Linked DNA regions of Homo sapiens. The protein of the gene in region 3 purifies or fractionates together with the protein of the main gene of each other region. This does not show direct contact. Each region holds a gene or a part of one and is shown on either strand. Other genes may lie near its edges.

What was found.
Region 1: the proteins of SV2C (region 3) and CA2 purify together in Homo sapiens (affinity purification with mass spectrometry; one large-scale study listed by BioGRID and IntAct). This does not show direct contact.
Region 2: the proteins of SV2C (region 3) and FAM91A1 purify together in Homo sapiens (affinity purification with mass spectrometry; one large-scale study listed by BioGRID and IntAct). This does not show direct contact.
Region 4: the proteins of SV2C (region 3) and UBE4A purify together in Homo sapiens (affinity purification with mass spectrometry; 2 studies listed by BioGRID and IntAct, with this or other methods). This does not show direct contact.
Region 5: the proteins of SV2C (region 3) and STX17 purify together in Homo sapiens (affinity purification with mass spectrometry; one large-scale study listed by BioGRID and IntAct). This does not show direct contact.
Region 6: the proteins of SV2C (region 3) and AGK purify together in Homo sapiens (affinity purification with mass spectrometry; one large-scale study listed by BioGRID and IntAct). This does not show direct contact.
Region 7: the proteins of SV2C (region 3) and HIGD1A purify together in Homo sapiens (affinity purification with mass spectrometry; one large-scale study listed by BioGRID and IntAct). This does not show direct contact.

The regions. Positions count from the first base shown.
Region 1 is NC_000008.11:85,462,438-85,467,260, forward strand, and holds the start of CA2 (carbonic anhydrase 2), read left to right. Parts: upstream 1-1,569; 5' UTR 1,570-1,644; coding exon 1,645-1,678; intron 1,679-1,790; exon of another isoform or gene 1,791-1,896; intron 1,897-2,144; exon of another isoform or gene 2,145-2,478; intron 2,479-2,834; coding exon 2,835-3,032; intron 3,033-4,823. UniProt on the Homo sapiens protein: Catalyzes the reversible hydration of carbon dioxide. Can also hydrate cyanamide to urea. Stimulates the chloride-bicarbonate exchange activity of SLC26A6. Essential for bone resorption and osteoclast differentiation.
Region 2 is NC_000008.11:123,809,231-123,813,473, reverse strand, and holds part of FAM91A1 (protein FAM91A1), read right to left. Parts: intron 3,193-4,243; coding exon 3,123-3,192; coding exon of another isoform or gene 3,084-3,122; exon of another isoform or gene 2,813-3,083; intron 956-2,812; coding exon 770-955; 3' UTR 1-769. UniProt on the Homo sapiens protein: As component of the WDR11 complex acts together with TBC1D23 to facilitate the golgin-mediated capture of vesicles generated using AP-1.
Region 3 is NC_000005.10:76,081,787-76,086,763, reverse strand, and holds the start of SV2C (synaptic vesicle glycoprotein 2C), read right to left. Parts: upstream 3,382-4,977; 5' UTR 3,252-3,381; intron 2,549-3,251; exon of another isoform or gene 2,451-2,548; intron 1-2,450. UniProt on the Homo sapiens protein: Plays a role in the control of regulated secretion in neural and endocrine cells, enhancing selectively low-frequency neurotransmission.
Region 4 is NC_000011.10:118,376,291-118,380,533, reverse strand, and holds part of UBE4A (ubiquitin conjugation factor E4 A), read right to left. Parts: intron 3,961-4,243; coding exon 3,840-3,960; intron 1,089-3,839; coding exon 784-1,088; intron 1-783.
Region 5 is NC_000009.12:99,968,587-99,972,829, reverse strand, and holds part of STX17 (syntaxin-17), read right to left. Parts: coding exon 4,157-4,243; 3' UTR 1-4,156. UniProt on the Homo sapiens protein: SNAREs, soluble N-ethylmaleimide-sensitive factor-attachment protein receptors, are essential proteins for fusion of cellular membranes.
Region 6 is NC_000007.14:141,637,667-141,641,909, forward strand, and holds part of AGK (acylglycerol kinase, mitochondrial isoform 1 precursor), read left to right. Parts: intron 1-3,581; coding exon 3,582-3,732; intron 3,733-4,144; coding exon 4,145-4,242; intron 4,243-4,243. UniProt on the Homo sapiens protein: Lipid kinase that can phosphorylate both monoacylglycerol and diacylglycerol to form lysophosphatidic acid (LPA) and phosphatidic acid (PA), respectively. Does not phosphorylate sphingosine. Phosphorylates ceramide.
Region 7 is NC_000003.12:42,790,253-42,794,495, forward strand, and holds part of HIGD1A (HIG1 domain family member 1A, mitochondrial), read right to left. Parts: intron 4,048-4,243; exon of another isoform or gene 4,024-4,047; coding exon of another isoform or gene 4,002-4,023; coding exon 3,905-4,001; intron 1-3,904. UniProt on the Homo sapiens protein: Proposed subunit of cytochrome c oxidase (COX, complex IV), which is the terminal component of the mitochondrial respiratory chain that catalyzes the reduction of oxygen to water. May play a role in the assembly of respiratory supercomplexes.

The DNA.
Region 1 (4,823 bases), on a different chromosome or scaffold from region 3:
AAATTGACTGAAATAAATAGTAAAGAGTGATTTTGAGATACATATTGCAAAAATGTCCACTAATAACTTATCCTTGTATTTATCTGTATATTTTCAAAGGTAAGTAATGTGATGTCAAGGCCGACACAATCACATTAAACTGTGTCCTGCTTCCCCAACTGTAACTCTAATACTATTGCCCTCAGAGATTGCAGAGACCACAGAACCGAACTCCTTCCCACAAACCCCCGGATTTTTCTGTGGCAAAATCCCTTGTAGGAAATGAATTCTCTCTATATCTCAAAACAGCCTCACTTACCCAGTAGGCCCTGTAAGCACAGTGTCTCAGGTCCACAATACTTTTAGATGCCCAGGAAAATGTTTCCTTTTAAAATAAGAACAAAAAAGAAAAAAATTAGGTGTTGGTTAAAGAAAATGTTTAAATATATAATATTAAGATATTTATCTTTATGTCAGTGTTGGTATAAATGCGTGTTTATGAAAAAGGGACCCACCAAGGTGAAATGCCGTAGGACCCACAAATGTCATAATGCTGGCTGGCCTCAAAATGTCCTTCCTATTAAACTATTTTGAATGATTCCTAGGTATGCCAGATGCCAATTTTTCTTGGCCAGCCAGGGAACGTCTCATGTCTTTGGAAGAAATTATCTTTCTCTTACTGGATTCTTCTGAGAAAAGTGATTTGTTAAAAGTTTTGGTTATTTCAAATCAATATGTACTCAACTAGGACGTCTCCTCACCCACGTTAATTTTTTAAAGAGGAGGAAAGTAGGAGAAGATGAGCGCTTCATGTAAGGCTCTGCCAGCCTACGAGGAAATGCAATCCTCCAGGCTCGCCCGAGCGTGGGCTGCGGGCAGGGGACTGTGGGGCCGTTGTCTCGTTTTATTCCACGGCCGTGCAGCAGAGGGCGCGTGCCTCTCAGCACTCATGCTGCGCGCTCCCCTGCGCCTCTAGGATCGTATCCCTATTTGCCCCAAGGTCATAGCTCCTAACCCAGCTTGCCAGCCCCAGGCCGGGGACACCAGAGACTGAGCCCTTCGCGCTGGAGACCCCGGCGCGGGTGGGGCGGGAGGGCTCCGGGGCCAAGAGACAGGTCACAATGGGGACAGGGGACGAAAGGCGCCGGGGGTCCGGGTCCCGAGCAGTCCCCGCCGCCGCCAGACTCCGCAGCCGGGAGGGGGATGGGGTGCGCGTAGAGGCTCCGCGGCCCGGGTTGGACGGAGGAGCCCAGGAGCCACCGCAGCCGCCGCACGCCCAGAGCTCCGAGCTTCGCTGCCAGCCCAGGACACCGGGGCCCTGCCGTGGGCCGAGGGGAGCCGGGCGGCGGGAGAGGAGCCCCGGAGCCCCGGAGCCCCGGAGCCCCGCCGGGCGCCAGCCGAGAGGGCGTTTTCCCCGCCCCCGGAGACTCGCCCGCCCGGCCCGCCCCGCCCCGAGCGCGGGGAGTTCACCTCCGCCCGTCACCACCTCCCCTTGTCGCCTAGGTCCACCCGAGCCCCCTCCCCCGGGCCGCCCCCGAGCACGAAGTTGGCGGGAGCCTATAAAAGCTGGTGCCGGCGCGACCCGCGGACACACAGTGCAGGCGCCCAAGCCGCCGCCGCCAGATCGGTGCCGATTCCTGCCCTGCCCCGACCGCCAGCGCGACCATGTCCCATCACTGGGGGTACGGCAAACACAACGGTGAGTGCCGGCGACGGCCAGCGCGGGGGCGCCCCGATCCCCGATCCCCGATCCCCGATCCCCGAGCCCGGATGCCGGCCCGGGGCCCGCAGCGCCCGCACATGCTGTTTACCGCGGCCGCGGGGAGTGCTGGAGGCTCAGGTGCGCCCCGGGCGCTCGCTCCGCTCGCGGCTCCGCGGCGCCGGGGATGTCCCCCTTGCCCCAGCTGCGAGGCCACTGTGGAGGAATCCCCGCGTCCGCCGGAGGCGCGTAGGGCCCGAGGGAGGGGAGGCGCAGCCCTGGCCGCGGGACCCGAGGACAGTCCCTCCCGGGTCCCGACCTGGGGATCATTTTAACCGGACCTAGGAGGAGGCGGGAAAGGGTTGTAACGGAAAATTCTAGTTGTTGATCGCAGAGAAATTAAGAGACTCCCCTCCCCCCTCCCCCACCTTCCACCCCCACCCCACCCCTCCAGCTTCAGCACCACCTGTGGCTAAGGCGCTCAGCACGAACTGTCCCGGGGCATTTTCCAGTGCTGGTTTGAATCCATGGCTCTGATTTCCGAGTTTTCCCTTCATCTCTCGACTTCTAATGTTAGGGGGTCGGACATCAGGAATCGGGTTTTATCTTGGCCTCAGATCTGGTTCTTCGGAGCCAGCGGAGCAGAGGAGCATGCGTCTGGCGCACCTAGCGCATCTTTGGAGGGTGTGGGGCTTCCCAGGTAGTGGGGAACCCTGACGGTTAAAGGTGGGGTGGGCCCGGGCCTGGGCAGTGAGGAAAGGATCCAGACCTCCTTGAATGTCTTAAGTGAGCTTGCATATCCCAAAATCGCAACCACAAGCCCTGACATTAGTGTCTGCCCGATTTCAGTTGCTGAATTTCAGTAAAACGACCTTAAAATAGCTAATATTTATATAGCACTCAGTGATCTAAGAGCTTTACATATATCGATTCTAATTCTTACAGCGACATCTATGAGGTAGATTTCTAATTATCCCATATTACAAATGTGGAAACTGAGGCACAGATTACGTGTTTTCCCAAAATTTAGCCCATTGTTAAGTGATGCTTCTAAAATTGGAACTGAGCAGATTGGCTCCGGAATGATTGCTCTTCTCTAGGGGTCTGGGTGTACCTTTCCCCACAATGGGGGATTCACATGTCTTCTTTCCCCCAGGACCTGAGCACTGGCATAAGGACTTCCCCATTGCCAAGGGAGAGCGCCAGTCCCCTGTTGACATCGACACTCATACAGCCAAGTATGACCCTTCCCTGAAGCCCCTGTCTGTTTCCTATGATCAAGCAACTTCCCTGAGGATCCTCAACAATGGTCATGCTTTCAACGTGGAGTTTGATGACTCTCAGGACAAAGCAGGTCAGTGTTTAGAAAATAACTTGTGTCTTTTAGCCAGTAGCTGTTTTCCGAGCTTAATGGAAGGAGCCAGGAACAGTGGCAGGAACCCTCTTAATAATACAGTTTGTCTCAGGACTCAAGGATGCCACCCTGATCATTTTCATTAGGTCTCAGATTCTGAGAAGTAGGCTAATTAGTTTGAAGTGTCCCGGGGCCGTTTCTTCCCTGTAAAACCCTTGGCTTCTATGAAGGCCATTGAATAACTGCGATATGCCTGTGAAAAATCACAAAAGGTGCAAAGTCCCCTCGCAATAAAGATCAGTCACGATGAGATTTGCACCAATTGAACTTTTAAGATTGTAAAATATTTTGTCTTGCAGAGCTGATGCATATCCATTAAAAAGTATATCTTAGTGAGCCTTATCTTCAAGTTAGCAGCGAGAAGAGTAACAAAAACGTGCCAATTTAAAATACTGAAATTCTGGGAAAATGTTTTACTTATGAGTATTTCTTAGTATTGGGCTAGTGTGATAAAGATGGCAGCATGTTTTGATATCTACTCAGAAATTCATTTCACAAACGAAGATGTTTTAGAGTTGGTGAACATACCTGGCCCATTACTGACAAAACCAATTACCGTATTTATTGGTAATAGAGCTGTTTACAGGATGCTCACTGTAAAAAAAAAAAAAAAAAGAAAGAGAAAGAAGAAAAAAAATCCTGCTTTTTTTTTTTTATCTCTCTCTCTTTTGAAACAAGAGAACAATCCCATTCACACATAGTAGCTGCCTTCTTTGCTAAGCAGTTAATTTAATTGCCAGTGCCCTATTTTCCTGAGTGCTTTCCTCTGAAGGTCATAGAATGAAATGGTGCTGCAAACACATTTTGTTTGGTGGTGGTGTGGGAGTGAGGGGAGTGGTGGAACAAAATGAGAAAGTTTTGGAGTAGTGACCTACGGTACTAATATATTATATAATATGTAATTATAACCATTTAGTCAGGTAGACTATTCTTTGTCAGCAGCTATCCTATATAGTCAACTTGGTTTTGAAAAAAGAATTCTTCCCTCCTTTCAACTTTAAAAAAATTTGCAAACACCTGGCTTTCTGAAATGGTGATTCTGGAAGACAATTTGATGGGGGATAATGTGGAGATCATCTGAGAAATGTTTTCAACCTACCTGTGCCTGTCTGTGTGCACCCCTCCCCAGTACACACATACATACATACATACACACACACACACACACACACACACTTACAATCATACTCACACTTTCTGGCATAGTATGATGATTTATTAGAATCAAGTAAAGGTTGTACATTGAAAACAGTTCGGTGATTCTGCTACATTGCTTTCCCAAGCATTCCTCTCACTCCAAAGGAACAGTGCTCATATAATTAAATTAAACAATTTTTTTCTTGTAAAGAATACTGTATATTTATAACAAGACAAGGCCAAAGGTCTCAAGGTATTACACATACAGAAAGAATACTATAACATTTCACGTCTAGTCATTTACAAACCAAAAGAAGTGAGCTACTTTAGTCTGTAGCTGTACTTTTTTAAAGAGCCACAATGATGTCATTGTTTTCAATGGATGTAATGTCTGCCAAATTATGTATCTCATTGGATGCTACATAGAAATTGGATAGTTTAAGTCTTTTTTGGAGCACTGAAGAAACAAATCTCCAACAAATGAAAGCAGATGAGGTTCCTAATAGTCCTTAAAAAATGGATAGTGAAATAAATTATTCTAGTAATATGTATTACTGGAAAGTGGATTTGAACACATGGTCTGGTGGCTATCAG
Region 2 (4,243 bases), on a different chromosome or scaffold from region 3:
AGCTACAAGAGTGGAAAATAAATTCTATTTTTTCCATAAAGACTCTATGAAAATATAAAGCCCAAAGTCAGTGACAACAGAAGTCCACATATAAATGGTGTTTAAAAATAGAAAGTCTTCTAAAGCTTCTCATGAGATGTCAATGAATAGTCATAATCTTAAGACCTTATAAATCAAGGTTAAGTTATACACAACTATGCTGATTTACATACCTTCTACAATGTCCAACTGACATACATAATTTACAGACACCCATAGGAATTCATAATGCCCTATCATATCATCTCTCAATACTGGATGTTTATTGTTTTATAGTTTTACTACTTTAAGTACCAAGAAGCCTTTTCAGAGGAAGAGTTCCATCTCTTCCCTTGATCCCCCAAAGTATAGGTAACAAAATATAAAATTAAACAAGATTTATGTTTGATAAACTAACATATAAAATTACCATTGCAATTTTCATAGTGACTGCTTATAAACATAACAGTCATCATAAAGCCTATAAAGTATATACTTAGTTTTATAAAAGAAATGCAGATTGTCTCAAGGTAAAAAATACAGTGCTGGCTGCTAAAAAGCACTTTGTCGCAATAAGATGTGCAATAATGAGCAAAACTTCAGAAAACATGAATATGTTCCCCAACTTTTAATATTAGTTAAGCAAGAATTGCACTGCAGCAGCAGGATGCTTTTTAGTGGCTGACACTATAAAGCTAACGTTAAGAAAGAAAAAAGGCAGAAAGTGTGAGCAACAAATGGTGTAACCAAATTATTGCAAATGGAGATTAGCAATAAGAAGTGAGGAAGGTGACCGTCCACTCCATTCTGATAAGACACCATCTTTAAATATTAAGTTTTTTGCAGGAAGTGGAACACCCATGTCAGCACACGATGACTGTGAAAGCAAACTTGAAAAACTGGGCTCTGTGTGAATATCCAATATTGAAGCACCTTCCTAAAAGATCAAGAAACAAGAGAAATGATATTCAACACTTTACCAAAACCACTTAATATAACTAATGAGAAAGAGAGACCTTGATTACCTGAGAAGTGTTTATGGATTGCAAAGCAGTACAGGAGATGCAAAGATCTACACTGTGAGCCCAAAGCAATCAATGACAGGTATTAATATGTGCAAAAATGACTAACAACGTTAAACTGTAGTAAGTCCTTTTAAATAGAAATAAGAGGCTACGAGACTGTGGGAAAAGCAAAAGTTCATTTTTACAAGACCTAACCTAACCCCAAAGTATTACCTAACAGAAGAAAAATCTCTAAAAAAAAAAAAAAACTTACAAAGGCCAGGTGCAGTGGCTTGTGCGCCTGTAATCCCAGCACTCTGGGAGGCTGAGGCGGGTGAATCACTTGAGATCAGGAGTTCAAAACGAGCCTGGCCAACATGGTGAAACCTCTTCCTACTAAAAATACAAAAAAATTAGCTGGGTGTGGTGGCACATGCCTGTGATACCAGTTACTCAAGAGGCTGAGGCAGGAGAATGGCTTGAACCCAGGAGGCAAAGGTTGCAGTGAGCCGAGATCGTGCCACTGCACTCCAGCCTGGGCAACACAGCCAGACTCCATCTCGGGGAAAAAACAAAACAAACAAACAAAAAAAACCTTACAAAACACTAAGCACCAGAATAATCCACCTACTCCACGCTTCTCAGATTCATATATTCCGCACAGACCTCCCCCCAGGACTCCATGCTCAAACATCCACCTATCTGACACTTCATTTCAGATGCTTCCCCATGCACTCTATACTCAGTATGCCCATCATTGAACTCTCAAATTTTCCCTCCCCTCTTCCTCCCCAGTCTTCTCTATTTCACACATCCAGCTAATCAAAAAACATAAGAATCATTCATGATCCCTCCCCTCCCTTCCCTCCACAGCCCTAATCTTTTCCTCACATTTAATTCATCATCAAGTTTTATCAACCTATCTCCAAAATATATCCCAAATTAGTTTAATTTATTAATTCACTATGGCCAAGGCCTTCACTGCCACAACAGACAGGCCAGTATTGACAGAATTTTGAAATTTTTCCATTTATTGCATCCTTATAAAATTTCCATTTTTGCCTATTTTTATAAAATAGTCCTTCAGAAATAACCTCTCTCCCCTGTTTAAAAGTCTTTAATCATTTCTCTTTGCACTCAACGTAAAATACTAGTTCTCTAACATATGCCAGAAGGCCCTGCACACCGTGCTCCGGCCCTCTTCTTCAACCTTACCTCTTGCTTCTACCCCTCTTTCATGAAGTTTCTGCCACACTGGGCTTCATTTGTTTCTTTGTTCACTGGACATTTCCCAGACACAGGAAGTACAGACCTAAGCTCTGCCGGAATATTCTTTTCCAACTTTTTGGCTTCAGCTTATATTATCCTGCACCTATTGAAATTAGGTCTACCTGCAGATTTCATCATAGTTGGCTTCTTCAAAGTACTTTTTAAAATCTTTTAGAACTTATATATCTTAATATTTATCTGATTATTGTCTCCCACAACATTCTCTAAGTTCCATTAGTATCTTACACATCACTGTTTCCACAGCACTCAGCAAAGAATCTGGCATAGGTCAGGGTCAAGCATTTACCAACTGAATGAATGAAGTAAAACTCCAAAATATTGATTTCATAACGTTGAATTAGATATTCTGAACAGAAATATTCTATTTTAAAAGTTTACCTATAAATCAAGTCTAGAATATTCTTTCTTTCCTTGGGGATGGGGGAAAAACAAGAAGTCCAGAGCACTGGCCTTCGCTGCCACAACAGACAGCCCATCCCAGCAGTGGAGAATCGCTTTAGTTATTGGGAAGTGCGCTATAACCAAAAACTAACACCTAGCATGGCACACAGCCCATAAAAGACACTTAACACATTTCTGTTGAATAAAGCACTGGCACAGAACAAAGAGATCAAGCTTTGGTCTCCGAAGACCTGGCGAGTGAAATGTGCAAGTCCATTAACTTCTTGAATCTCAATGTCTTCATTTGTACAATAAAATTAATGTTTATTTCATATCTTGCTGCTGTGGTGACTCAAAAACAAACACAGAAGTGTTGTGCATACTTAAAGCTCAGTACAAGTACCATTTGGACTTTTTGGTTTTTGTTACCTGGAATGAGTGAACAAAGTTAAGGACTTGCAGAGAGAGTTTTCTACTGGAATGTAAGAGGTTTTGAAGGCTGAAAAAAAAAAAGGCGAGAAACAGTTTAAAACAAACATAAAGGCAAGAATGAGTTTCTCATAAGAGTTTAATTTTAGCAATTTAAATGCATCTATATATCCTGGCCAATCACAAAACATCTTAAAAAACAATTTCAGTGTTTCTCATCAATGAAATTTTTGCTTGTTTTAATAATAGGGAGTAGTCATGCATTAAAAGTCCATTTTGAAATAAAATACATCGTGTAACTAAAATCAAAGTTATTGTTTTAAAAAAATTCAACTACTATAAACATAAATGTTAAATGAAAGAAAACTTTTCAAATGAAGATTTAGGCACTCTGAGGAATGACAACTATGACACAACCTTTAAACAACCAAAGTAATTGCAAAAGACAACCTGATAACAGATTAAACACACACCAACCTACCTAAATATTTTTCAAATATGTAAGTCAGTAAAAATTATAGTGGTAATCTTTAAAGTTCTATAGTATTTCTATTTTTTACTCATGTATATTACTTTGTTTTTAGAGAATAGATGTTGAAATTGTCAACTGAGTACTCTTCATTTTCTGATAAAAGCTACATTACACCATTTAAATGAATTATTGTCCAACTTCATTTTCTAAAATAAGAAGATCTTGACTTGTGGATTTCACCTCTCCAAGCCACCTATCATGACAATTAGATTCAATTATACTCTTTCCTGCTAACCCAGTTTGTCTCAGAACCTTTACAACATTGCCTCTTAGCAGCTACTCACAATGGATCAGAGCTGGTATATAAGATAAAACCTACATGTCATCTTTAAGGAGTAATACATATCCATTTTAGAAAATGTAGAAAGTGAAGAAAATTTTGCAAAGTCATCATAATTCCACCACAAAAACCAATCACTATTAACAGAATATAACATGAGTGTGTGTATGTTAGGAGTGAGAGAAATGCAGAGAAATTTTCTGTAGACATACATTTTTTAAAATCTAGGTTCATACTCCATATCAGCATGCCCATTTCACCACACCCTCACCTCACCTAGATTACTAAATAAATATAATCAAAACATGT
Region 3 (4,977 bases):
AAAGAAAAAACCTCCAAATTCAAACCACTGCAACATTTTACACTGGTTGCTCAACTGTGCAGAGATTGAAAAAGCAAAGCAGAGATTGAAAACAATGTGGCAATGTTGCATCAAAACTATATATGCCAGGGGCTGCCTTTCCTGGGTTTACAAACAGACTTCATTGAAATGATGAGTTTGTGTTTAAATGGAGAATACTATGTATGCTGTGAACCACAGTCAAACAGGAACCTCACCAACATGGAACCAAGAAATACGCTGGTGTATTGAAGGTTTTCCCTTGATATAGCTGCACAGAAAAAGAGGCATTTTGCTTTCACTACTCACAGAAATCTACCGTCATCTGGAGTAATATGAATAACAACAGTGGGCTGGTTAAGGAGCCATTTTGACAAATCACATGCTTTTATTCATACAATATGTCATCAAGTTTGCTTAAGAATAAGAGATAACACTCCTAATTATAGGAAATGGGTTTTCTGGTACTTGTCGTCACGTGATATATTGCACATTATGATGCCTTTGCCGTAATCTCCTGGAGACTGGGAACTGGATCCTATTATTTGAAGCATTTCCACACTTAAGGAATATGATAGGGTTAATAATGAATAGGAGTTTTACTACAAGCTGTTAGGCCAGTCTGCTGCTCAGATCAGAGAAGCTACTTTCACTGTCATTGGGTCATGAAAAATAAAGCTGATTTCTCCACTACATGAACAAAACACTCAGATGTGATCCAGAGCTTCTTTTTTTCCTTCTCCAGACAGTCAGTAGCTAATGGCATTGGATTACATATTAGACTGTTAGGAAAAGTCTGCTGTCTGCATTTGCTCACATTGAGGGCCAAATTTCATTAAAAAAACAATGCTGGGAAAAGTCTCTAGAATTTTTTAAAAGAAAATTCTGTGTGTGTGTGTGTGTGTGTGTGTGTGTGTGTAGGGGCTTTGTTTGCTAATATTTTCCATTCATGGAAAATTTGTATTTCCAAAGCCAAAGCTCTCTGAGATTATCTCTTTTGTCTTCAAAACAACCCTGTAAGGTACATAAGAGCTAGTATAAGCTATTTTTCACAATTCTCAGAGGTGGAAGATGAACCCAAGAGGGTGAGTAACCTGCCCAAGGTGACATAACACAATATTTGGGGAAATGGTGACTAGCATCTGTGTCTCTGGGTTCCTTGATAATTGCTTTTCTTCCTCCCTCCCTTCCTTTCTTTCTTTTTTCCCAACCCCGTCCCCTTTCATTCATTTTGCCTACATACTGCAGATTTGGGCTCCTTCAGTAAAGCCAGTAGAAAAACTTTGTCACTGGGTTTCCAGAAAGTGGTCTTTAAAAAAAAGAATAAAATGGATCGTGGATTTGATTTATTATTTTCCACCAGAGAATGCGTTATCAGTAGTGTTTTTTAACGCGTATTTTTATGCCATGAAAGAGGAATGCGGCATATTGTTTTGTAAGACATTCTTAAACCTCACTTAGAGGCCAGGCCTCCTGCCAAAAATCCTGCAGAATGGTGGCGCAACGGGTTGGCACTACAGAACCTCACGAACCTCAACACCTAGGCGTTCACATGAAAACTTCCCACGAGCACGAGGCCTTTCGGAACTTGCCATGGAAAATGAGTGAACGCCTGAGAGATTAATGCCACATTCTTCAGAATTAAGGATAAGAATTAAACGGAAGCTACCGCGCTAGCAGTCAGCTAAGTATGAAGGGATTAGGTTCAGCGGGAGAGGAGACCATCACGGCATCCCGGTCTCATCTCCTTAAGGCTCTCATGAGCCTTAAAAGACGCCTCATCTCCTCGGTCCCCCGGGGAGCGCCCGGTAGCTGCGGCTCCTTCCCGGCACTGCGGCGCACTGCGGAGCCGCCTGCCCGCCAGCCCAGGCCGTGCGGGGCTTTCCTCGCCGCCCCGCGCCGCCGCAGTCCTCCCGCCCCCCTCTGCCCCGCCGGGTCGCCGCTCTCCGCGCCAGGCGCGCCGCGGGGCATCCATCAACCCAGAGCTTTTGACGCACACACGCGCGCTCCCAGACGGAGACTCCGTCGCCTGCCCCCGCCCGCCACCCCCGCCCGCCCCTCGCGGGTCTGCATTTGCATCACTCGCACACGTAGAAGGTGACGCGAGCGCCCCCAGCTCAGGCCGTCCAGGCGGCACCTCTAGCCCCCGTGGCTCAGCCCCTCCCCCCGCCCCCGCGCGCCGCCTAAGGTCCCCGCACGCCCACAGATCTGCTCCCGATTGTTCATCTGCCGTGGGGTGCTGGCTGCCCCAAGCCAAGTTCATCCCCGTATTCCGCAGTCCCCGTGGGCCCAGCCCGGGGCGCTCCCCGCGACGCTCTGGAGAAAAGTCTTCCCAGTTCTAGAACCCAGGCGGAAGGGGAAAAGCCCACTAAGAGAAAGGGTCAGAGGGTCGGCTGATGGCTTTTGCTGCCCTCATCGCCATCTAAGATTACCTCGGTAGCTTATTTACTGCGATTGGTCCCTCTCCCCTCTGAGCTTCACAGCCTCGGGTCTGCTTCGCCTGGCCTGGCGCACAGCAGGCGCCCAAAAGGTTTTTGCTGAATGAAGGCGTTGTAACGTAGGAAGTGCAGGCGCTGACAAAGAGCCTCAGCCCCGCGGGCTCCCCTGCTCTCCAGCCCTCTCTTGCTCTCTCTTAGACGCCAGACAGGCGCTTCGGGAATGTATGTGGGAGAGTTTGAAAATTCATGGTGTTTCTTTCAGGCTCTCTCAGCACTTACTGCGGCTACCTCTGCTCTCCCGCCACCTGCACGTCTGCAGAGGGATCCCCGCCGAAAAGTTGAGCCTAAGGCAGCTATGAAGGTATAGGTCCAGGTACCCAGCCCGGGGCTCTAGGCTGCTAGATTTGAATCTGCCTATCCCTGCCGGTCAAACCACACAAGCAAAAAAGAGCGTGGCGGTCGCTGCAGATGCGGCCCCTGCATCCCCGCTGCTGCCCACCCACCTCCTCTGGGAATCCCAGATAAAGTGCGACCCAGTCCCCAGACCTACCCTAGCGAACCCTGGGGTCACTGCATCTATTTTACCCCTACTTTCCTGGTCCCTCTCCAACAAAGGCGCCTACAAAGCAGCGGGCACCTGCAGCCGCTTCCCCGGGGGCAGGCGGGGCAAAGTTGCGCTTCCGAAAGGCTGCAAAAACTTCCCCAGGCTGCAGCGCCCGGCCACCAGTCGGGAAGAGAAATCCAGCAGCGGGGGAAAGTCTCCCCGCGGATGCCCGCTTCACCTCCCCCACTCACCGCTCCAGCCGTCGGACACCCTTGCCCTGAGTGGTGTCAGCACTGCAGCCGCCTCAGTGCGGGCGCCGCTCCGGCTCGCTTCCCCGGGCTGCCTCCGTCTGCCACTCTCGCCTGCAGCGCGCGGAGTGGTGACTCCTCTGAGCGTGTCAGCGGCGAGAGGAGGGGCGGGAAAGTGGCTCCCGGCTTGCACGCTGCGGTCCTCCTCCTCTCCTCCGCCTGCCTCCTCCCCCTGGTGCTGCAGTGCCGGGCGGCGGCGTGGCGAGAGTACCAGCGGTGCGCAGGGAGTCACGGCGCGCGGGGGAGGCGGGACCCGCGCGCCACTCGCGGTGCTCCGGCAAGTCGCGGTGCTGAGGCGCTGCTGCGGTGTGGGACTGGGGCAGGGGGCGGGGAAGGAGAGCCACCTCCAAGTGGTAGGTACTTCTGGAGAAGTCAGGGCTCTGAGTTTGTAGCAGGTGAAGGAGAGGGGCGGCAGTCCTTAATTAGTCACCAACTGTGACTGTGCGTTGCGCACTTGGCGGCGCCCCGGGTCAGGTCCAGCGTGAGACGCGAGGGAGTTCTGACTGCTGGACTCTGTTAGCACCGGACAAAAAGAGGGTTTGTATTCTATTTCCGGGCCTGGGACTGACTTGTTCACTTCGACTTGGCTTCCAGGGAGCAACCAGGCAGAGCTAGGTTGCCTACTTCCCCCAGCCCCCACCCCGACGCTGGAAGACAAGTCCAGAGGAAACTTGGGCACAGCAAGAGCAAACAGAAGAAAACTTCGCTGGGTTAAGTCTACTGTCTCCCCAATGCTACATAGGGCCAGACAGCTGGGCTCACAGGCAGATATTGAAAGTGGCCCCTTAGAGGGGAAACAACCAAATATGAGGGGGGGGGGGTGGAGAGAGAGATAGAGAGAGAGAGAGGAGGAGGAGGAAGAAAGAAAGAAAGAAAGAAAAAGAGAAAGAAAGAAAGGAGGAGGAGGGAGAAAGAGAGAGGAGAGAAGAGAGAGAGAGAGGGAGAGAGAGAGAGAATTTTGCTTGTGTTGTTAGAAACAAACATTTCTCCCCTTGGCGTGCAGGAGAGAGAATTTTGCTTGTGTTGTCAGAAACAAACATTTCTCCCCTTGGCGTGCAGGAGACCCCAACTCGAGCTTCACTGTTCCAAAGCGGTGGGCCAGGCGGCTGGAGAGAAACTCGCTCCCGTGAGGCCACACCCAGGCCTGGCGCACCCACCCCGCGGCAGCAGTGGAGGGCGTCGCCCTCCCGGGCCTTCCGACGCAGACCCTGCCATCCGGATGCTGCGGGAAGTAGGGCATCCTCACGTCCCTGACTCCTCCGGCTCCGCGCGCTCACGGAACCCAAGTGGAGTGGGAAGCGGTCACACAGGCGTGTGCCGTCCCCGAAATCGTTGCTCCTGTGGTGGTGACCCAAAGCGAGACAAAGCGCCGCGCCAATACGGGCTGCAGTGATTGGAACTCAAACACACACATCTCTCCGCGAATGTGTTCCATCCGTGTAAATATGCCTGGGTGATTGAATGGATGGCTGAATGAACGCTGTGTGGATAGAAATATAAATGTTACATGTATAATACAGGCGCCGGGGAAGGAGAGCTGTCAGGCACCCCCAGGCTGGAGCCTCCTGCCCAGAGGAGCCGGTGGAGACAGGCGGTTCGCCCAGGGCGGTGTTGTTAGCTTGGGCTTTCCAGTTCGATTTGTGCCACTATGCAGGATACTGTGAAGAGA
Region 4 (4,243 bases), on a different chromosome or scaffold from region 3:
TATGGCTCACTGTGGCCTCAACTTCCTGGGCTCAAGCGATTCTCTCACTTCAGCCTCCTGAGTAGCTGGAACTACAAGTGTGCACCACCATGCCTGGCTAATTTTTTATTTTTTGTAGAGATAGGGTCTCTCTATGTTGCCCAGGCCAATCTTGAACTCCTGGGCTCAAGTAATCATCCTGTTTCGGCCTCCCAAAGTGCTGGGATTACAGGCGTGCACCATCATACCCAGTCTGTAGTTTTAAGCTGCTATGTTTTGGGGTAATCTGTTACTCAGCATGATATGGCCAATACAATGGTTAAGAACACATAACCTGATTAGATTGACAACACCTGCCCACCCCTCAATGACTCACTGACACACACACACACACACACACACACACACACACACACACACGCACACACACACACACACTCTTTCCCTTCTGAGTTAACCAGCAGGAGCTAATTTTTTTTCTACAAAAAGGACAGGGAAAGTTAGATGAATGTGTAAGTTGAACAAATATTAATGATAGAAACTAACAGCTCTGAAAACTCTGATTACACTTAATCCTTTGAAGATGATTTTCTGATATGCATAGCAGGGGGACACAAGGTTGAGGGAACAAACTGTTAGTCCCCTAATACTTTGACCAGTAGATATTATCTAAGTTTGAGTTGTTTCTCCAAAAACAACTGAATGATAACGAAGAAAGGGTATTTTGAGGATTAAACTTCCAAAGTGACCCACTTAAACTCAGAAGGCTATAAACAGGACATTCCCAAGGGAGAGCCTGCTTACCTGGCACATAAGCCAAAGAGCTGTAGCCATCTGGCAAAGGAAAGGTTAGCTCTATTGGCTGTGAGCCCTCATTGCCTATGGCCAGTTGAACCAGTAGAACAGCCATGGACACCTGCAAGTTTAGGCAGTTTTGTAGCATTTGTGGCTCTGTCATGGCAGTCTTGGTAGAAAGATAGATGGTCATCAGTCGTTCAAACTGCTCACGAAGATTGTCAGCAGCAGGGCTAGAACTTTGCTGAGCATCCCGCCAGGCAACCTGCAGCCGATGCAGATTTTGGTTGATTTTTACCATCTGATCATGCAACCTGCCCCCAAGAAAGCAGAAGAGACTGGGTCAGGGAAAACAGAAAGTCACAAAAAAACAAATCCTCAATTATTTATCTAGCCTTCTCTTTAAGGATAGTAGGGAGTTGCAGTTGCAATGACACAGAAGGCACTCACAAAAGTTTTTGACAGGACACAGGCAGGGTGCACAGCAATGGGAAAATGCTGCCAAGTATTCAACATAATTGAAGCTAATTGCAAATAGCAGCCTTCAGTTGAAATGCACTATCCAAAGAAAGGCAGCTTGGTTGAGTAGGGTGTAGAATGGGTTGTTATTACATAAAATAATTATTAGGCAAAGTACAAGAAGGCCAGCAGGATAGTTTTACATCACACAAGGGCAATGATCATACTTTGATGCAATGATCATACTTTGATGGGGTTATATGGATAGTCTTTCTTTGGTTAGTAGAAAACTAAGCTGGTGAAAAGGGACTCTAGATTAGTAATGACCACATATAAACTAGTAGCCACCTGAGATGCAATCTAAGAGCAGCTTCCAGCTCTCTGTTGTTCAATATTAAATTAAATTATTCTTCAGAAAAGGTCAGCCTAATATTCTCTACTGAAAGGAAGACACATAATTCAAAGTTATGGATAATAGTCCAAAATCATTTCCTTTGGCCCTGTAGATAATGTCTTGAGCTAGCTAATATTGGGAAACTAGATGATATTCATTTTTTGTTTGAATCTAGGCAGCTGAGCAGCTTAAGCACATGCTGAACTTTTATCTACTGTCTTATTTAAAATGTCTATGATGGAGATTTCTCTCTAAAGACATAATTTCCTTCTTCCGGCAATGTGTTGACTGAGTAGTTTTGAAAAATGCTCTGCATCAATTCAGGTATCTTGAGAAGGCATTAAAAATTGCTATTCTTAGTGTCCCTTTCTATGACTGAGTTGCTGTTTTCTTCCTCTACTTATACCTGTCATAATCAGCTAAATCAGAGGAAAACAAATTACAGAATAATGAATAGCCAGAACCAGAACTGTTTTTGGAAGTCATACATTCTAGTTCTAAAATCTTAACATTTCTAGAATCTTCTTTATCTAATGTCTTTTGTGGTCCTATTGATCTCATTAGCTCCCTTATAAACATTTCCTTAATATTTGCCACTTTTGTCTCTATCTGTAGAGTAGAACTTGGTCTTTTTCTTTTTTTTAATTAATTTTTTTTTTTGAGACAGATTCTCGCCCTGTCGCCTAGGCTGGAGTGCAGTGACACCATCTCGGCTCACTGCAACCTCCGCCTCCCAGGTTCAAGCGATTCTCCTTCTTCAACCTCCCGAGTAGCTGGGACTACAGGCGCGTACCACCAAGCTGGGCTAATTTTTTGTATTTTTAGTAGAGACGGGGTTTCACCATGTTAGCTAGGACGGTCTTGATCTCCTGACCTTGTGATCTGCCTGCCTCAGCCTCCCAAAGTGCTGGGATTATAGGCATGAGCCACTGCGCCCGGCTGAACTTCATCTTTTATCACCAGGAGTAGTAATGAAATTTTTTTTTTTTTTTTTGAGACAGGGTTTCACTATGTTGCCCAGGCTGGAGTGCAGTGGCGCAATCTCGGCTCACTGCAGTCTCAACATCCCAGGCTCAAGAGATCCTCCCACCTCAGCCTCGTGAGTAGCTGACACTACAGGCACACGCCACCATGCCCAGCTAATTTTTGTATATTTTGTAGAGACGGGGTTTTGCCATGTTGCCCAGGCTGGTCTCAAACTCCTGGGCTCAAGTGATCTGCCTGCCTCGGCCTCCCAAAGTGCAAAGGATTACAGGCATGAGCCACCACACCCGGCCAGTAATGAAAATTTAAGAGCAGAAAGTGCAATATAAAATGAAAACAATTCCACTTTCCCAGATCACAATAGGAAGACAGTGATTTAATTTTTAAAGTTTAACAGGTCAAAAGTTAAAAAACAGGCCAGGCACAGTGGCTCATGCCTGTAATCCCAGCACTTTGGGAGGCCAAGGTGGTGGATCACCTGAGGTCAGGAGTTCGAGACCAGCCTGGCCAACACAGCGAAACCCCATCTCTACTAAAAAAATACAAAATCAGCTGGGCATGGTGGTGCATGCCTGTAATCCCAGCTACTTGGGAGGATGAGGCAGAAGAATTGCTTGAACCCAGGAGGCGGAGGTTGCAGTGAGCAGAGAATGTGCCACTGTACTCCAGCCAAGGTGACAAGAGCGAAAATCCATTTCAACAACAACGACAACGATAAAAGTTAAAAACAAATTTAAGGAATCTGGACAAAGCTGATTCATGAAACACAAGTAAATTCATACAATGCCCCTTTTCTATTAGATTCTAATGTGAACCTTTAGAATAAGCTCAGATTATATCTGTAAGACTCTTCCTCTCTTTTTTTTTTAAGAAACAGGTTATCACTCTGTCACCCAGGATGGAGTACAGTTGCACAATCATAGCTCACTGTGGCCTCCAACTCTTCGGCTAGAGCAATCCTCCTGCCTCAGCCTCTGAAGCAGCTAAGACCACAAGCATATGCCACCATGCCTGGCTAATTTTTTTTTTTTGGTAGAGATGGGGGTCTCACTTTCTTGCCCAGGTTGGTGGTCTTAAACTTCTGGCCTCAAGCAATCCTTCTGCCTTGGCCTCCCAAAATCCTGAGATTAAAGATGTGAGCTACTGTGCCTGGCCAAAGACTCAATTTCTACCTTCTAGTTATCAACACAACTAAACTGTTTTTTCCTAATGACATCAGAGGAGTTACCTGTGAAATCCCAAGTACAAGGTGTACTCTGTCAGAGCAAGGTTCTCTGTTACAAGGTTGTAGTTCTGTGGAAACTTCGGCTCCTGCACAGCTGGGATCAAACAGGTTTCTTTGTCCAAACCTCAAAGAAGTTAAAAAAAAAAAAGAGGGTAAATGTCTTGGTCTCCAGTCTCCTCTTACACTCATTCAATTTCCATACTGTTAGCAGTGATATCTTCTTAAAAACATATCTTGTCATATTAGTTCTTTGTCTGAATATATCTTTTGGTTTCTCACCGTCTACAGAAATACAGTTAAATCTTTTTCATGAAATCACCAAAAATTAAAAGGAATACTACTATAGATTGTTTCAAGTGATAGGCAATAGATCATTTGTATTTATTTTGTGCTTTTCTGAATTTGAT
Region 5 (4,243 bases), on a different chromosome or scaffold from region 3:
ATCCTTCCTTGTAAGATTTCATATGGCAGCAACGAAGGACAAAGGGGACCCTGAGAAACACCTTTCATATTTAAGGTTAACACAAAGCATGGTTTGGTTTCTGCACTCTGATGGAAGACAAACGTTGTATATTATCTAGCTATATTACAGGTTTCCTCAACTTCTTGTGATTGATGTTACCAGTATTTGATTCTTACTCCTGTACAAAAATCTTAGAGCACTTAAGGGAGGGCAGGAAGGCAGGCAGCCCACAGAAGGAAGTTTCTGGACTCATGCAATTCTCCCTGTACAGCACTCAGTTTCAGTATAACCTCAAAATCCTCCAGGAACTCTGGTCAGTTCTACACAGCACCATCATACCCCCTTTTCTGGGATGATCTGCAAAATGTCTTTGGAGGCAATTCTGAAAGAACAGTTTCAAAATTGGTCTAAGTAATATTAATACTAGCATCACTACAGTAAGTACATGATTTCCCAAGGGTATCATTTTAAAGGATAATCATTTGATCTATGAATTATGATAAATTTGTTTTAAAAAGCATTAAAGTTTATTTTTAAATTACACAAAAAGCACTGTTTAAACAATGGTTATAACTAGTGAACATTAAGAAATCTTGCAGGCAGGTGGATGGGATTGAAATACTCTTTCTTGATTTTATAGTTTAAGGGCCAAATTGAGCACTGTTTATGTCTGCATCAGCTACCATTAAAAACTTTGAGGCTGCTGGACACTCAGTAAGGAATCAGAAGTTTTTTAAAAAGATGCAAATGAATGGAATGTGTCATTTCAAAGCCTGTTTGGTAAAGGAGAATGGATGACCCACCTTTTTTTAAATATTTTTTTGAGAGAGGGTCTTGTTCTGTCACCAAGGCTGCTCCTGAGTTCAAGTGATCCTCCCACTTCAGCTTCCCATGTAGCTGGGACCACAGGTGTGTGCTATGCCACACCCAGCTAATTCTTAATTTTTTTCATACAGACAAGAGTCTCACTATGTTGCCCAGGCTGGTCTCAAACTCCTGGGCTCAAGTGATCCTCTGGCCTCTGCCTCCCTAAGTGCTGGGATTGCAGGCATGAGCCCCTGCCCCCAACCCCCATCTCAATTTTGTATAGAGGCTGTATAGTCTGAGAGACATAAAAGTTTTTGTAGCTCAACAGACCTAGTTAACATTCCTGGCTTCACCCCTTTGTAGTTGAGTAAACCTCTGCAAATTATTTTCTCTGAAGCCCAGTTTCCTTACTTGTAAAATGCCTGGTGAAGTGCCTGGCAAACAGAAGGTATTCAAGAAATACCAGTTCCTCTGTGAGGGTGTTTTTTTCAAGCTAAGGGTTGCAACCCATTGGTAGATATCAATTTAGTGGGTTGCAACTGGCATATTTTAAAAACTGAAACAATAAAAAGCATCAGAATGGTAAGTATTGTTCATTAAACATATTCTAAGGTTTGATATAAATGCGTTTTTTACTGTGGGTTACAGCCAAAAGGTTTGAAAGTCTCTGCTCTACAGAGAAATTCTCAGATTATGTTAAAAAAAAAAAAAAAGTCCTTAGGATTGCTGCCTTTATCCAAATGAGGGCCCACAAATTTTAAGACATTAATCAAAGTGTTCCCACTTTCTAACTTGTTGCAGTAAAAATAAGACATGGAGAAAATATTTAATCTGATATGATAAAACATTAAATTCAATTTTAAGATTGGTTTCTGTGTCACACTGACTATGCTTATAAACACTTTATCATTTATAGTTGATCAAACTCTTCTAGCAATTTCTATGAAAAAGTTGGCTATTAGGTTCCATTATAGGGAAATGAGATACTTTTTAAAAGGACTGTAACTTGCCTATGTGTGAAGACTGCTAGAGTAATATTCCAATCCTGATGAGCAGTAAAAGTCAAGGGCTTATATGAGTACATACAGTGGTATTCCACACTGGCTCAGTAAAAATGAGAGATACCAATACCAAGTGTGAGCTTCAAATACAGGCCTCCTTCAGGTCTTTATGTAAACCAGATTTACCTTATAATGAATCCCTAGTGCTGCCGCTAAGTTGGTGGGCTGAAAGGATAGCCAATTTGGGATGGAAGAGTGGGGTAATATGCAGTGATGAAGAAGGGTAGAATACTGGGAGTTTCAGAATTAAATGACACAGCAGAATCTTGATGTAACTGTTTCTTAGATTTATAATTTCAGCTGACTATGCTGGACGGGTGATGTCAGAATTACCCCTGGAACTGAGGTTTAGGAATCTTGCTTTAGTATGTGCCTGGGTGAGTTCTGATCCTCATTCAGGTTTGATCACCCTGTGTTAAAGTGACAGAGCAAGGTCCAGAAACTAGAGAAGAGGTGTAATTCAAAAGTAATTATCCCAGCCTCACAGGTGTCCAATATCACAGGTGTCCAATACTGGATCAGAATCTGACACTTATTCAAAGTATTTCCTTCTTGGTATTATTAATATGTTAATGATATAAAGCAGCAGAGAGCAATACTTGATACTTTCTAGTTATTTAATGATACTAAGAAATGGTGCTGTTTCACTGGATTTCATTGATGAGATTTAAGACGTATGAAAGAGAAAGTCTCTTTAGACAGGGACATGAAAGGTAGCCATCAATAAAAGTTACTAAAAGTAAACTCAGAAAGAAAGAAGTGATAAACCATCCAATCCCCTAATGAACCTTAGCTCCTGGCAGAGAGACAGCTCACACCTTCTGGGGTGCAGGTGCCCATCCCTGTGCTCAGAAAAAAGCGTTAAGTAAGGCAAAAAGTGATTCCTCCTATTTTAAATGAGTTGGGGTACAGAGGGGAGCTGCCTGTAGTCTTGAATTCTTTTTTTCCAGTATTAAAGCCTTTCTGCGGTTTGAGATAGACATGCAGTTGGGCTGGGCCATGCTTGCTGTGAATGTCAGGTGTTGAGATTAGCACCACACCATTCCCCGGGTCTGAGTCTTGCATGCGTCTTTGTCCATCATTGTCTAGAATGTGAGAAAGGTAAGCATGGGAACGCCATTTTGGGGAAGAAACACCAGCTATAGAAAGCAAAGGGATGCATAGGAGATAAAAAGTCTGGGGAAAAGGATGTGAGGTAGCAAGCGAGTTCTCAGCTCCCCCCAGAGACCAGCTGAAAAGAAGACTGGGTCAGATACCCCCTATCTGGCAGATATATCACCCCTCAAAACTGGAACATGCCCCAGGAAATGTTCTTGGTGGTTTTTTTCTCCTTGCTCATTTTAGCCCAAACTCTAACAATGTTGAAAATATCTCGAAATTTCTTTTTTTCTTTTCTTTTTACCTAGAGGTTATAGGAAGGGATGAACAGAGATGACAGACAAGACAAAAAAGGTTATGAGAGAATTCCTCATTATACATGGGTAGAATTCACCCCAGAAACCAAAGAACTTTTCATAATTACAAGGGAGGGACAGCACAGGGCACAAGATCTTTGAGGTGTTAGAAGACAGGCTGACAGACCAAGCTTGGTGACTGGCTTAATAAGTCTCCTACCACTTGAAATTCTGTGTTATTTATTTAAAGAGAGGCAGAGGAAGAGTTCAGAAGCCAGAAGATTTTTGGAAGAGAAGTTGAGCCTCTTGCATTTTCTTACATCATTAATTTCCTTCACCAGAAGATATAGTTGGACCAAATTGCAATAGGGTTCGCCAATGGACTCCATTATGTAGTCGACCTGTGCTCCTCACTAGGCCCTGATTTCGCTATCTGATAACAAAGGCTTCTGAACTCTTATTCTTTTCCTCACTAACAAACCTCAATAATCTACACTTAGCATTAAGGTCTCCAATTCAGGGTTATGGAAGAAACTAGTCTTCCATAACCCAACGTTTCTACACATCTCAAGTCCTTATCAGAGTTATAGGTTCAGTTTTCACATTTCCAGGGAGAAAATCTGCTCCTTGGCAGTCTTCAAACTTTACCTGACATACATTATATACCCTCAGCCCAGGGCCTCAATCTCTTAACATCTCCATGAACACCCCAGCAAACAACAAAATATATCCATTTATCACACTTCAATCCCACTTGAACATCAGTAGCCACTATCTTGATATACTTGTGTTCCAAAAGGTGACGGAGTGTCCAACAGCAGCAAAGGTCCTCAGGATAGACATGTTGGCACCAATAATACTGAAATTTGGTTTTTAACTGCATTTCTTGTCAGTTTGGCTGGGAAGATCTGGACAGCTGGAAGTGAGCTTCTCCATCATTTTCTGTTTCTTTCTTTGTAT
Region 6 (4,243 bases), on a different chromosome or scaffold from region 3:
ATATTGATAGTTTGGCCAATCTGAAAATTGGCAGATGGGGTTTGAATGTAGTGAGAAGGTTGGTTCCAATGTTAATATTCAGAGTTATTGAATGTTTTTCTAATTATAAAAGTAATACATGTTCCTTGCAAAACATTTGGAAAACATAGCTTCCTTTACCTTTTAAAAAAATTCTGGCTGGATTAAAAAATTAAATGTAAAACCCTAAAATCACTGAACTACTAGAAGTAAATGTATGTGATTTTAAAAATGAACTTTGCAGGGCAAGGTCTTTATATACCAAGGGCAAACTGGATTAGTAAAATCGGTTATTCCTCGAGTTTCATTGGTGGAGTTGTGAGTGCATTTAGGAAGAAATAGAGTAGCTACATATTTAAATGGAATATAAACTGTTGCCACTATTTATTCAGCAAACAATAGTTGACATATGCTTGGGATACAAAGTCAAATGAGACAGGTTTCCTGCCCTCAAGAAGTATTCAGATGCTGGGAGGGAAGTGTAAGTAAATCAGCAGTTTGGCAAGTGCTGTGAGAGAAAGATAGAAAGATTAAGAAGGGAGCAGAGAGGAGGGGCATCTAAATCTAATGAGGGTCAGAAAATCTTCCCAGCAGAGGAGACACACTAAATTTTGAAACATTTAAAGGCTGTGTGAAGTCACAGTGGTGTGACATGGCCCTTAATTATGATTAATGCAGTAAAATGGCAGGAAGTGAAGCCAGTGGGTTAGGTAAGGGCAGGTTATGGCGGGTTTTGATGTGCAATTTGACTTTTATCCTTAAAGCAATGGGGAGTTATTGAGTCTTGAGCAGAGGCATGAAATGAGCAGATTTGCATTTTAGAAAAATTGTTTTTTTCTAAACAGAAAAACAGATAGGATGTAGGTAGCTCAAGGCAAGGACATTAGATAGAAGGTTGTTAAAGTAGTCAGGTGGGAAGTGACGTATAGACTAAGGAGGTAACAGTATTGACAATAGAAGATGGATTAAAGAACTCTTAAGTTAGAACCTCAAAAGTCAGAAGAATGTAGGATTATCAGATTTCTGGTATGAGGGACTAGAGTTTGGTAACTGGAGTTTTCCACTGATGTTGGTAATACTAGAGTAAATCAAGTTTGTGAAGAGAGATGAAATTTTCAGTTTAATCTATGTAGAGTTTAACATACCTGTGGTACAGACAAGCAAAGATACAATTGTGATTTAGGTCGGAATTCAGCAGAGAGGTCTGGACTAAAGAAACAGATTCAAATGTCATAAGTGTGTGAGCGGTGTTGAAACCATGGGTTGGGTGAAATTACCATTGAGTACAGATGGCCAGGAATATCCCTAAGGGACATAAACATTTAAAGAACCACCAAAAATGACTGAGAAGTGCTAAGAGAAAATGCAGGAGAGAATACTAACATAGAAGCCAATAGAAGAGAGAATTTCAAGAAAAAAGTAAGAGTTTCGAGAAGCAAAAGCAAAGACTTTAAATATACAGACAAGAGAGTATCCATCGAATTTGGCAGCCTCCAAAAGCTGGGCAGCCTCCAAAGTGTGGTGGCTGAAGCCAGACTGAAGAAAGTCAAGAAATAAAAGTGATGTAAAGAAGTGGAGACAGCAAGGACACGCTACTCCTTCAAGAAACCTGACTTTGAAGAGAAGGAGATAGGGAAGGCAAAAGCTGAGAGAAACATGGGGTCAATATGGAATTTTTAAAAGTGGAGAATATCCATGTGTTTCTAGACTGAAGAAAAAGAAAAGAATGTGAGGAGGTGAGAAGGGAGACAGAAAGCATGACTGAATTGGCAAAATCCAAGAGCGGGTAGAAGGGCGTGGGATCCAGAGTACTGGATTGTCCCTGGACAGGACAAGGGGCACCTTTTTTCATTGATACAGAAGAGGAGTAAAGGGTAGGTCCAGATGAAAATGAGATTAGAGAAAGTTAAGGTATTCTCACTGATGTCCCTGATATTCTCACTGAAGTGTAGGAAGCAAAGTGATCCTGTCAGAAAGGTGGTGAGTAGTGGTATGGGGTATCCTGAAGAAAGATGAATGTAGGAGGAGGCTTAGGATTATCAAGTAGCACTGAAGACCTGAGGCTAACAATTTGTAGACATGAATGCTCCTTTGGGTGACTGCTTTTCCCTGTATTAATACTCAGCAGGAGTATCATTTTCTTCTCTAGTAATACTGAGCCATGATGTAAGAGTACAGGAACTTAATGACAAGGCTGATCCAGAACTGGGGCTTTTTAGGACATATTGTAGAAGAATAAAGACACAGGAAAGCCAAGAGTAAGTGGAAAAAGAAAGCACTTGAAAGTAATTGACTATCAGTTTGGCACTGAGGGGAAAATGAGTGGTCAGGGAGTAGAATCCTCAATGTGATTGAAAACTTGGTGCAGTTAGGTCTTCAGGGGCCCACAATAAAACCCCTCTCTTCCTCTTTTTAGTTTGAACCAAGGTATGAAAACAAATGCAGGAACTAGGCAGATGAAGATCAAAACGTCATCTTTATAAATGTCAGCAGGAGTGGAGGACAGAGCACAGATACGTGGTCTCTATCTGATCTCCTAATACTGTGAACAAAGGTGTCCATTGAAACAGCTCCTTCAGGGCAGAGACCACCACAAGAAGCTAATTTTCACCACATGAAAATTAGAAGCAGTGACCGTTTGAGACAAGGACAGCTGCTGTCAGAGAGAAAGGAAAGGGCTGGATCCATGCATTGGTCCTTCTAGACTTGGGGAGGAGTGAGTAAGCAGTGGAGTGAGAGAAGCCAGTGTTGCTACTGCTTTGTAATTCACCACCTGGAAACTTGAGAACAGGGAAGCATTTCACCCTAAGAGACACAATGGGCACAAAAGAATCAACCAGAAGAATATGGGATGTGATTAGAGAGCAGGATCTCAGGGTTTTAGATTTCCAAAGTGGAATAGTTCTGGGTGACATTAGGGGCCAGGATGTGGCCATGGAAATGGGTGGATGTGGTGAATCAGAGGTGATGTCAAGGGCTGAGAGGCTGGGGTATGGTTTTATTCATTCATGCGGTCAGGATGTGATCCAGGGTGACACTGGACTTGGGATGCCAGGACATAGAAGACAAAAAAAATTAGAGTGTGAGGGTGATGGGCTTTGAAGCAGAAGTGAGAAGCCTTGGGCTGGATTGTGAGCCTGGGCTAAACCATTCTGGCCTGTGTGTGGAATAAGATTCCAGAAGTGAGGTAGGTACTTGATGCAACTGGATTTCCTCAGTTTCATTTTGCATCACCATCTGTAAGCCAAAGATAAATTTATTACGGATGACCCTATGTTCATTCACCCTCTTTTTGGACAAATGTAAATGGTGGTGGTTAGCCAATTTTAGGGGGAGCAATGGAGGCAGTACTTGCTGAATTCATGGTTTTTAAGATGTAGCTTTAAGAGGAAAAGAAAGCTTGAGGATTCCATGCTCCAAACTAGCATTCCATCCAGTGAGAGGAGATTATTAGTTCACTTTCTAGCAGGTATAGGTAGACAAATAAATAACTTTTGCAGAGAGAAACTCCCAGAGTGGAATTGTACATGCATAACAAAATTTTTCTCTCTCCACATTAAAAGGAGTGGCCTCAGACTCATCAAGCCTCTATCTCATACACGGGACCTACAGAGAGACCTCCCAATGAACCAGAGGAGACCCCTGTACAAAGGCCTTCTTTGTACAGGAGAATATTACGAAGGCTTGCGTCCTACTGGGCACAACCACAGGATGGTGAGCAATGTGGCGACTAAAGATTGGAGGGCCCTGGTCAGTTTAGAAGTGCCCTAAAGTAGACCTCCAAAATCAGTTTTAGAGACTTAACTAGAGCAGGAGAAGCCTCTCAGGGATCACTGAATTCATCCTTCTGTGTGCCACCAGAGCAGGCCCAAGCAATGTGCCATCAATGGGCATAGCAGTCTCTGTGCACAGTCTTTCTGTTAACGTGACTGCTTTTGGTAGTGATGTTTTAGGCACAGAGATGCCATTTTTACCTCTATGTATAAGAAGCATGAAATAAATAAAATGAAGGCAGAGTCAGCAGAAAGGTTGAGAAGCTGAGCTGAGCAGCTAGCAGCTAGCCGTCCGTGGTGGGTGGTGAAATGTTAATGGAAGAAACTGACCTGTATCTAATGGATTCCCACAGCCCTTTCCCAAGAGGTGAGCCCGGAGGTCTGGAAAGATGTGCAGCTGTCCACCATTGAACTGTCCATCACAACACGGAATAATCAGCTTGACCCGACAG
Region 7 (4,243 bases), on a different chromosome or scaffold from region 3:
CCAGGTGCAGTGGCTCACGCCTGTAATCCCAGTACTTTGGGAGGCTGAGGCAGGTGGATCATTTGAGGTCAGGAATTCGAGACCAACCTGGCCAACATGGCAAAACCCTGTCTCTACTAAAACTACAAAAATTAGCCAGGTATGGTGGCAGGCGCCTGTAATACCAGCTACTCGGGAGGCTGAGGCACAAGAATTGCTTGAACCCGGGAGGCGGAGGTTGCAGTAAGCTGAGATTGTGCCACTGCACTCCAGCCTGAGCGACAGAGCAAGACTCCGTCTCGAAAGAAAGAAAGAAAAACAACTAGAACCAATAAGAAAAAAGATTACTTTGATGAATACATTAAAAAGCATATCTAGAGAAATTAAATTTCTAGACCTAGAGAAAACAATAAAATCATATTTAAGGACACAAAAGGTTTGAATGAAAATCAGTAGATGCACCACATTCTAAAATTTCCATTCTCTCCAAATTTATAAATTCAATGTAATCCAAATGTAAAAATGAGACATTTTTCCCGTTTTGGACTGGGCAAGCCAGTTTCTTTTTCTTTTCTCTCTTTTTTTCAGACACGGCGTCTTCCTATGTTTCCCAGACTAGAGTTCAGTGGGTATTCGCAGGCATGATCATTATACACTACAGCCCTGAACTCCTGGGCTCAAGTGACGCTCCTGCCTTGGCCTGCTGAGTAGCTGCAATTAACAAGCTAATTTCAAAGTAAACAGGCAAGCTCTTTTTAAGAAGGTAGAATAGTGAAAGTGTACTGGCTTATGAGGTATCTAAACATACCACTAAGTTTCTGGCAGACAGATCAAAGCAACAAAATACATACAGTAGTTGAGTAACAAATCTCTCATATGTTTAGTATATGACATAGTTCACATTTCAAATAAGTGGAAAAAGAATGCAAAACAGATACCCAAATCACTGTGATAGAAAATTAAAGTATCCATACGGAAAATAAGTTAGATTTTGCCTCATGTCATACCTACAAATAAATTCCAGATAGATTAGTATCTCAATGATAAATGCACAACATAAGGAAATACAGGAACCTAAGTAATCCCAGGATCATGAAGGCCTTGCAACATATTAAGAAAACATTAATACCTAAAATACATAATTATAATTTAATTAGAAAAAGACATCCTAGTTAAAACAGAAACAAAAGCAAAAACAAAAAAGCTAATTCACAGAAGAGAAGCCTGAATGACCAATACATATGAAAAGATGCTCAAAGAATGATAATATCTAGTGCTACTGAGAGTATGGGAAAACCAGCCCATCACAGCCTATTGGTGTAAATCATTGTTTTGGTACAATTAAGTATATAAGGATATTTAATTTTTACACACACAGTCTTCCAACAGTTTGTAAAATCAACATAATGGGAACAACTCCTATGTCGTCAATACAGCAATGGTTAAATCAATGTAGGGTTTATGTACTCCCAAGAAGGGATATGTATAAATGACAACCCATTAAAGAGCAGAAAATTTTATATTTGTATCTTATCCTTTTGAAATGTCTTTCTGCGTATTTCATAATGACTTAAATGACTTAAAAGTCATAAATGACTTAAAAATAGGTAAACACACAACACACTGGCAGGAAGTACGTGCTCAAATTATTTTTTACTGAGGGAATATACAACCAAAAAATTTTATAGATCACTGTTACAAAACATTGTATATCTACAAAATTAATGATTCAATTATTAAAAATATAAATGTTCCTATATGCATTGTTATAAAAAGATAATGAACAAGGCTAAAGAAAAATATTTCATCTAAAAATAATTATAAATAATAGTTTATGGTAGTACACAGAGAAGAAAACACTGACAGACTGTGCAGACTGCTGTTGTCTTTCAGAGTCGGGATCATAGGACATGGTACCTTTCTGTTTTATGTACTTTTGCAACTAACTTATTAATTATATGGTCAGAAGAAAAATTCCTTCAAGAGACTTCAAAGTCCTTTAACTTCTTGGAGAGCCATCTAAAAGGATGCTCAGTAGTTTAATTGTTAATAATGAAAAATTAGAAATCACATAAATTTCTACCAAGAGGATTATAATAATGTTATATACAACAGTAATTTATATCATATAAATTAAGTCATTCTTAAAAGTGGAGTTTTGGCCGGGCGCGGTGGCTCACGCCTATAATTCCAGCACTTTGGGAGGCCGAGGCGGGCGGATCACAAGATCAGGAGATCGAGATCATCCTGGCTAACACGGTGAAACCCTGTCTCTACTAAAAGATAGAAAAAATTAGCCAGGCGTGGTGGCGAGCACCTGTAGTCCCAGCTACTCGGGAGGCTGAGGCAGGAGAATGGCGTGAACTCGGGAGGCGGAGCTTGCAGTGAGCCAAGATCCTGCCACTGCACTCCAGCCTGGGCGACAGAGCAAGACTCCGTTTCAAAAAAAAAAAAAGTAGAGTTTTAGGCCAGGCACGGTGGCTCACACCTGTAATCCCAGCACTTTGGGAGGCCGAGGCAGGTGGATCACCTGAGATCAGGAGTTCGAGACCAGCCTGGCCAACATGATGAAACCCCCATCTCTACTAAAAATACAAAGAAATTAGCTGGCGTGGCGGCGGGCACCTATAATTCTAGCTACTCAGGAGGCTGAGGCAGAAGAATCGCTTGAACCCAAGAGGTGGAGGTTGCAGTGAGCCGATATCGCGCCACTGCACTCCAGCCTGGGCAACAAGAGTGAAACTCCTTCTCGGAAAAAAAAAAAAAAGTCGAGTTTCGAATAACATAGTTAAAAACATGAGATAAAAATTATAATACATATATGCATCTTAGTATGATCCTGAATTTGTGAAGATAAAAAAAGAAAAAACAACTGGAGAAATATGTACATCAAAATGGTAACAACAGTTATATCTAAATGGTGGCATTAAAGGTAATTTTAAAATTCTCTGTAAGATTAAAAATTTTTAAACTTTTTCTTAAGATTAATTTATATACTATAAATTTCACCTTTCATCTGTTTTAACTGCATATTAAATGAATTTTAATATGCCTGCGAGTCCGACCTCTGGGGGATAGGAGACTGAATAGCTAATTTCAGTCACAGCTGACACCTCAATAAAACCTGGTTACCAAGGCTTGGTGGGCTTCCCTAGATGGCAAGACTTAGCATGTATTGCCACATATCACATCAGTACTGAAGAATTAAATGCACCCCCTCTCCCCCTGTGGGACTCCCTGGGAAGGGGACACCTAGAATTTTGTGTCTGGTTTATCCTACACTTCATTCTATATGTCTTTGTTGACTTTAACCTATATCCCATTGCTGTAATAAACTATGACTGTAACAAGCATTTTTGAGTCTTATGAGTCTTGGCCCAATCATCTAACCTGAGGATGGTCTTGGGGTCCCCCAATACAACATTATGCACTGAAATAAGACTCAATAAAATAAGAAGTCTCAGCTGGAGTGGCAGCTCACGCCTATAATCCTAGCACTAGGCTGAGGGCAGGCGGATTGCTTGAGCCCAGGAGTTCAAGACTAGCCTAGGCAGTATCGCAAAACCCCGTGTCTATACAAAACTACAAAAATTCGCTGGGCGTGGTGGTGCACACCTGTGGTCCCAGCTACTTAGGAGGCTGAGGTGGGAGGATCAAGAACCTGAGAGGTCGAGGGATGGGGGCAGTGAGCTATGATCAAGCCACTGCACTTCAGTCTAGGTGAAAGAGACCCTGTCTCCAAAAAGAAAAAAAAAGTCTGAATACATACAGAAGAATCTTTATGATGAGATTTATATCATGCCAATCTCAGCATATTTCAACATAAGAAAAAAATGGAAAATACATTCTTTCAGGATATTGCTAAATGAACAAATTATCACGGCTCTACCATATTCAAGACTACTAAAATGTCAGTCAAACTTACCAACGGGTACGAATGGTGCCTCTTTAGCTTTTCGAATGAGTTTTGATCCCTGATCTTCCTCATATGAAGGAAGGGAAACACCTGTGTCTGTTGACATAGTGATTGCTTGAAGAATCTCCCTGAGAAAGAATTTCTATGAGGTTCTGTAATTAAAAGCATCTGAACATTATTAAATATCTGGATGTATTTAAAATATTCCTAACTTCCATGAGAATCTTAGTATATGTTATCCATAATCCTAAAGTTAAAAAATATTTTTAGAAATTAACTGTATTTTTAATGTACAGTCACTCTCAAGGGAGAGTTGTATACACTTATTCCCCCTATTATTTTGCCGTT